2 linked regions of the Homo sapiens genome follow. The protein of the gene in region 2 interacts with the protein of the main gene of each other region in a biochemical or structural test. Each region holds a gene or a part of one and is shown on either strand. Other genes may lie near its edges.

Evidence for each region.
Region 1: the proteins of SOX10 (region 2) and NFIC form a complex in vitro, tested with the Homo sapiens proteins (one study listed by BioGRID).

Annotation. Positions count from the first base shown.
Region 1 is NC_000019.10:3,376,536-3,380,344, reverse strand, and holds part of NFIC (nuclear factor 1 C-type), read right to left. Parts: intron 1-3,809.
Region 2 is NC_000022.11:37,978,056-37,981,864, forward strand, and holds part of SOX10 (transcription factor SOX-10), read right to left. Parts: intron 81-3,809; coding exon 1-80. UniProt on the Homo sapiens protein: Transcription factor that plays a central role in developing and mature glia.

The sequences.
Region 1 (3,809 bases), on a different chromosome or scaffold from region 2:
ACACTGTCTCAAAAAAAAAAAAAAAAAAAAAAAAAGAACAAGGCTGGGCACGGTGGCTCACGCTTGTAATCCCAGCACTTTGGGAGGCCAAGGCGGGCAGATCACGAGGTCAGGAGATTGAGACCATCCTGGCTAACACAGTGAAACCCCGTCTCTACTGAAAAAAAAACAAAAAAATTAGCCGGGCGTGGTGTCGGGCGCCTGTAGTCCCAGCTACTCAGGAGGCTGAGGCAGGAGATTGGCATGAACCCGGGAGGCGGAGCTTGCAGTGAGCCGAGATTGCGCCACTGCACTCCAGCCTGGGCGACAGAGCAAGACTCCATCTCAAAAAACAAAACAAAACAAAAAAAAACTAGGGTCGGCGGCCAAGCATGGTGGCTCACACCTGTAATCCCAGCACTTTGGGAGGCCACAGTGGGTGGACTGCTTGAGCCCAGGAGTTCAAGACCAGCCTGGATGACATAGCGAGGCCCCGTTTCTACAAAATCAAAACTTAGCTAGGTGATGCATACCTGCAGTCCCAACTACTTGGGAGGCTGAGGTGGGAAGATCAATTGAGCCCAGGAGGTCAAGGCTGCAGTGAGCCAAGGTTGCGCCATTGATCTCCAGCCCGGGTGACAACGTAGTGAGACCCCTGACTCCTGACTCAAAAAAAAAAAAAAAAAAAAAAAGAAAGAAATAAAAAAAAATGAAAAATGAGGCTGGGCGCAGTGGCTCACGCCTGTAATCCCAGCACTTTGGGAGGCTGAGGCAGGTGGATCGCTTGAGGTCAAGAGCTTGACACCAGCCTGGCCAACATAGTGAAACCCCATCTTTACTAAAAATACAAAAATTAGCTGGGCATGGTGGCACACGCCTGTAGTCCCGGCTACTCAGGAGGCTGAGGCAGGAGAACCCAGGAGGCAGAGGTTGCAGTGAGCCGAGAGCTCGCCACTACATTCCAGCCTGGGCGACAGAGTGAGACTCCGTCTCAAAAAAAAAAAACCCGGCTGGGCGCGGTGGTTCATGCCTGTAATCCTAGCACTTTGGGAGACCGAGGCGGGCAGATCAAGAAGTCAGGAGTTCAAGACCAGCCTGGCTAACATGGTGAAACTCTGTCTCTACTAAAAATACAAAAATTAGCCAGGCGTGGTGGCGCATGACTGTAATCCCAGCTACTTGGGAGGCTGAGGCAGGAGAATTGCTTGAACCTGGGAGGTGGAGGTTGCAGTGAGCCAAGGTCACTCCACTGTACTCCAGCCTGGGTGACAGGGCGAGACTCCATCTTGGGAAAACAAAAAACAAAAAAACAAAAAATGACTACGAAAGCTTGTTCCTACAGAGCATATGTACAGACAGGCCTGGCTGAGATCCACAGGCAGACACTAGGCCCGCCTGGAGGTTGAGGGCTGCTGGAAGGGTGGGGGGATTTCTGCATCAAAAGATAAGAGATTCAAGTGCACCAGGATTAATCAGAGGGAGGAGAAATCCCGGGTGGAGTCCTCTCCCTCCTTTCCCCTTTCCATGAACCCACTGTGCTGATACAGAAACAGACCAGAGAAGCAGACGCTCAGCCACAAAGGTTCAGAACTGGGGAGAGGGGCCACCCCGTTCCCTGCAGACCCACCCTGGAGATGGAAAATCCGAGGGCTGGGAAGGCGCTGAGACTGGGCCAGAGCTGGGACTTCAACCTACTCCCAAATCATGACAAATTGGTGTCTGAGGGCAGTCACAACACCCATGCTACAGATGAGGAAACTGAGGCCTTGAGGGGGAACCCGGCCATGGGGGACAGAGGTGGACTGGAACCTGCACTCATCTGACTTCCCCACGAAAATAACAGCAGCCCCTTGAAGAGAAATGTGGGGCAGTGGGAGGCCCCCAGCTCCCTGTCTGGGTGTGGGGAGGCCCCTCCCATTCTTCCCATTTTCCAGCAAGGGAAACTGAGTCTGCATAGCATTTGGGATCTCAGCTGGGGACTATGGCTAACGCCTGTAATCCCAGAACTTTGGGAGGCTGAGGTGGGTGGATCACTTGAGCCCAGTTCAATCCCAGCCTGGGCAACATGGCGAAACCCCATCTCCTTTTTTTTTTTTTTTTTTTTGAGACAGAGTTTCACTCTTGTCACCCAGGCTGGAGTGCAGTGGCACAATCTCGGCTCACTGCAACCTCCGCCTCCCAGGTTCAAGAGATTCTCCTGCCTCAGCCTCCCGAGTAGCTGGGATTACAGGCACACACTATTACAGCCACACACTATCATGCCCAGCTAATTTTTGTATTTTTAGTAGAGATGGGGTTTCACCATGTTGGCCAGGCTGGTCTTGAACTCCTGACCTCAGGTGGTCCACCTGCCTCTGCCTCCCAAAGTGCTGGGATTACAGGTGTGAGCCACTGTGGCCGGCAGGCAAAACCCTATCTTTACGAAAATTACAAAAATTAGCTGGGCATAATTTTTGTGGTGCGCGTCTGTAGTCCCAGCTACTTGGGAGGCCGAGGTGGAGAGATCACTTGAGCCCAAGTGTTTGAGAGCAGCCTGACCAACATGTCGAAACCCCGTCTCTACTAAAAATTACAAAAATAATTAGTTGGGCATAGTTGCTGTGGCGCACACCTGTAGTCCTAGCTACTTAGGAGGCTGAGGTGGGAGGATCACTTGAGCCTCAGAGGTCGAGGCTGCAGTGAGCTGTGATTGTGCCACTGCACTCCAGCCTGGGGGATAGAGTAAGACCCTGTCTCTAAAAAAATAAAAAATAAAATAAAACAAATTAAAAACATCTGGGACCTAGTTTCTCAGCCTCAAGGTGGAATAAATACAAGGAACAAGAAGAGAAAGAGAAGCAAAACTGCCTTTCCATCTCCCTGCCTTGACCAGGCTGGGCTGGGCATTTCGGACAGGGGTGATCCCTTCCTAGCACAGAAAGCTGTTTTCCTCCCCCCAGCTCTCAAAGGACTACATTGTTATTAATGATGCGATGATTGTTATCATTACAACTTATATTGCTATTGGATTTTTTTTTTTTTTTTTTTTTTTTGAGACAGAGTCTCGCTCTGTCACCCAGGCTAGAGTGCAGTGATGCGATCTCAGCTCACTGCAAACTCTACCTCCCGGGTTCACGCCATTCTCCTGCCTCAGCCTCCTGAATAGCTGGGACTACAGGCACCCGCCACCATGCCCAACTAATTTTTTGTATTTTTTTTTTTAGTAGAGACGGGGGTTCACTGTGTTAGCCAGGATGGTCTCAATGTCCTGACCTCGTGATCCGCCTGCCTCGGCCTCCCAAAGTGCTGGGGCTACTGTGATTTTTATTACTTTTTTTTTTAAGAGATGGGGGTCTCAGCCTGGTGTGGTGGCTCACGCCTGTAATCCCAGCACTTTGGGAGGCCGAGGTGGGTGGATCATCTGAGGTCAGGAGTTTGAGATCAGCCTGGCCAACATGGCGAAACCCCATCTCTACTAAAAACACAAAAAATTAGCCAGGTATGGTGACAGGCGCCTGTAATCCCAGCTACTCGGGAGGCTAAGGCAGGAGAATCACTTGAACCCGGGAGGCAGAGGTTGCAGTGAGCCAAGGTCGCGCCATTGCACTCCAGCCTGGGCAACAAGAGCGAGACTCCGTCTCAAAATAAATAAATAAATAAATAAAAAAGACAGGCGTCTCACTGGAGTGCAGTGGCACGATCTTAGGTCACTTGGGCCCTGAACTCCCAGACTCAAGCGATTCTCCCACGTCAGCTTCCTGAGTAGCTGGGACTACAGGTGCAAACCACCATGTCTGGCTAATTTTTATTTTTGCAGAGATGGAGTCTCACTCACTGTGTTGCCTTGGCCG
Region 2 (3,809 bases):
CCGGGTGGTCTTTCTTGTGCTGCATACGGAGCCGCTCAGCCTCCTCGATGAAGGGGCGCTTGTCACTTTCGTTCAGCAGCCTGGGGTGTGGTGGGAGGCGGAGAGGACAGCAGAGGGGCTGGCGTGAATGCCAGAGCACTCCAGGTTGGCCTCCCTCTGAGTGTCCATCTTGGAAGATGTGAGGCCCTGGGATGGGGCACCCAGAGGACAGGACCCGGGGTGGGGGCTGTGCCCTATGATTTGTGGACTGAGAGATGTGAGGCCCAAGGAATAACAGCCTCAGAGGGCTGCCCCCAAATCTTTCATGGGCTGGAGGGTGAGAGAGGGGTCAGCCCGCTGCTCCTGGCAGCCCCTGAGGAGGAGTTAGAAGTAGGAGTAGAGGTTTCAAGGGGCAGATGCCAGTTCAAGGAAAGGAAAAACTTTCTCATCATCAAAGCTGTCTGCAAGTGGAATTGGCTACTTCAGTGGGGGTGAGCTCCCTGGGACTGAGGGTGGGCAATAGAAGCAGCATGGCTGGGGGAGAACTCAGTCTCTGCTACTTACTAGCTGTGTGTGTGACCTTGAGCAAATTACTTCTCTGAGCCTGAGTTTCTTCACCTATAAAAGGATGATAACATTGGCTTAACTTGGGTGTGGGATTGGCCAGAATAATGGATGTGAGATGCCTTGCACCAGGGCCTGGGAAGCGGGCTGAGCACCTTGAGGAAGAGGTGCTTTTCTTTCTTTCTTTTTTTTTTCTGTGAGGGAATCTCACTCTGTCACCCATGCTAGAGCTCAGTGGTATGATCTCAGCTCACTGCAACCTCTGCCTCCCAGGTTCAAGTGATTCTTGTGCCTCAGCCTCCCAAGTAGCTGGGATTACAAGCATGCGCCACCACGCCCGGTTAATTTTTGTATTTTTAGTAGAGATGGGGTTTCACCATGTTGACCAGGCTGGTCTCCAACTCCTGACCTTAGTTGATCCGCCTGCCTTGGCCTTCCAAAGTGCTGGGATTACAGGCATGAGCCATTGTGCCCAGCCCAAGAGGTACTTTTCTATTTTTAATTTTTTATTTATTTAGAGACAGAGTCTCACTCTGTCGCCCAGGCTGGAGTGCCGTGATGCGGTCTCAGCTCACTGCAATCTCGGCTTCCTGAGTTCAAGCGATTCTCCTGCCTCAGCCTCCCGGGTAGCTGGGACTACAGGCACGCACCACCATGCCTGGCTAATTTTTGTATTTTTAGTAGAGACGAGGTTTCACCATATTGGCCAGGCTGGTCTCCAACTCCTGACCTCAGGTGATCCACCCGCCTTGGCCTCCCAAAGTGCTGAGATTATAGGCATGAGCCACCGTGCCCGGCCCCAAGAGGTGCTTTTCTAATGCTGCTTGCGGGGGTGGTTGGACAGGAGGATCTAGGGTTGGACTCTTAACTCTGGGTCCTGATTGTGTGAATTCCAGTGTGGTGGGACTGAGGGGGCAGATGTGGCTCCTCTTTACCATGGGTCTGGGTGGGGGGTACTGCCTCCTGTGGGGGATCCTATATCCTTGTCCAGAAAATAGCAGAGAGTAGAGGAAGCTAGCCTCTCCTCAGACCCTGGAACAGTCCCTGAAACCAACACATGGAGAGAAGAAGCCCTGAAGCCAGCGCCCTTGCCACCGACTCCAGCCTTAGGCCAGGGTTGGAGGGTGGAGGGCATTTAGGGTTTGGCTGCCCCAGGGTGAGGAGGGCAGGATGGGGTACCTTACAGAGGGGGTCGAGGGGAAAGTCCAGATTCTAGAATCCCAGACCTTGGTACTGAGAATCCATGAGTCTTTGTGGGAGCAGCCTTGTCTGTCAGTCCAGAGGGCTTGTCTCTTCAGCTGCCCCACCCCTCACACCCCAGTGAGTGCCCTCTTCCCCCAGTCAGCAGAAGGCCGAGCCCTCCCTCCCCAGGCTGGGCGGGGGTGGTCATGCCAGGCACCTCCTAGCCGGCAGCAGCATTCCTCTGCGGCTTAGCCTCCCTGTCTACTCCCCCCACCCCGGCCCTGAGCCCAGCCCTAGCCCCAGCTTTCTCAGAGGGTCCCTCCAGCCGAGACTCTGTCAGAGTCAGTGTACACACTTAGGACAAAGATGCCGGAGCAGGGCCTTGAGAGTCAGGGAGTGGGATGTGGGCACCCTCTCTGACGGCTGGGACCAGGGGAGGGGGTGGAGCAGGCCTTGAGGGTGTGACTGGGGAGAACCCACAGAGGAGAGAGCTGCTCCGCCAGCAGTGGACCCCAACAGAGGGGCTTCTGGGATGGCTGGGGACATGGGACACAGAGCTCACTCTTTCACCTATCCTTCCCTTGCCCCCTGCCCAGCTGGCAGCCAGCATCAGCAAGAAAGTGACAGGGGCCAGAAGAGAGAGAGGATTCCAACATCGGATTCCGCTGCTACCTCCTAAGCTAGTTCCCAGCATTAGCCTAACCCTGACAGAAATCTAAGCCTGGGGCCACTGCCATCCCCGACCCCAGCTCCCTCCTCCACCAGCTGTGCCGGACAGCTGATTCCACCTCCACCCCAACCCCAAGCCCAGCCTGCCCACCATGTAAACCCAATCTCCAGCACCAGTCCCCACTCAACATTACCAGCCCCAAACCCCCAACTTCGCCTCCAGCTCTAACTCCAAACCCAGTCCTCATCTGCACCTTCCTGTCAGCCCTCTTTCTCCCTGGTCTCCCAGGTTTGGAATGGGGGCAAGAAGAGGTAGGCTGATTCCTCACCCAAACTGGAAACCCCAACCGGGGACCTCCCACAGTGGGGCACTGATTGCTGCTACCTGTGTCCTGCTAGGCCAGGGGCATAAGAAGACTACTTGGGGAAGGGGCCTGTGGCACTGGGAACAGAGGCTGGGTGACCCCCACCACACAGGAGGGACTCTTGCCTGTGTCCGCCTTTCCAGTTTCTTGGCTCTGGTTCTTTCCAGGCAGATCAGCCAACCCACAGGCACCACCCTGTGATCAGCCTCAACTAGCCCCTCCCCAGATGGGCATCAAAGGTTAGAATGACTGTTGGGGCTGACACGGCCCCTTAGGACCTGGGCTCCAGTGTGTCTGATCCCACACTCCCTTGGGGCACTCCACACAGTCTGTGTGTATCTTTCTCTTTTTGGTTTTAAGACACCTGTTTTCCAGCTCTGCCTACCTAACCACCCCACTTCTTGACATCCCAGGAGTCACAGCTTGGGGAGGTTTCAGGAGAAGCCCCTGGAGCAATTGGCCAGCCCAGCCCAAATCCAAATGTCTCTCAGGACCCCCCTCCAGGGTCCAGGGAGCCACCCTCTGTTGGCATTGCCTTTGATCCTTGCCATGGTTCTGGCCCCATCCTCCCATTGGGATTGGGTCCTCAGCAAGTAGTGCCAGTTTTCCTGACTGCCACACCTCAGGCTGGCCCCTGTGCACACAGCTTGAGTGATGGCCAAGAATAAGTCCTCCTGAAGGGAGTCCAAGCCCAGGGTTCTGGGCTGGGGGAACCTGGGGACAGGGACAATGGAGGAGCCAATCTTAAACCCTTGGCAATGGGAGATGGAGGGAAAATGAGGTCCGTCCTTGCTTTGACTCTCGTTGGGCTCGTACTGTGGTCTTCTCATGGTCCCCAGAGTCTGCCCTATCTGTATGTCTCTCCTGGTTGTCTGTTTCTCACTTGCTCTTTGTCCCCTGGCACTAAAGATACTGGCCTGGGCCAAGCCCCACCCAGATCTGGATGGACCTTGGGTGGAGGAGCTAGCTGTGACCTCTGCTCTTGGGCAGAACTGGGCTGTCTGGGTCCACACAGCGGGCTGGTCGCTGAGCCCTGGGCCTGCCCTGGGT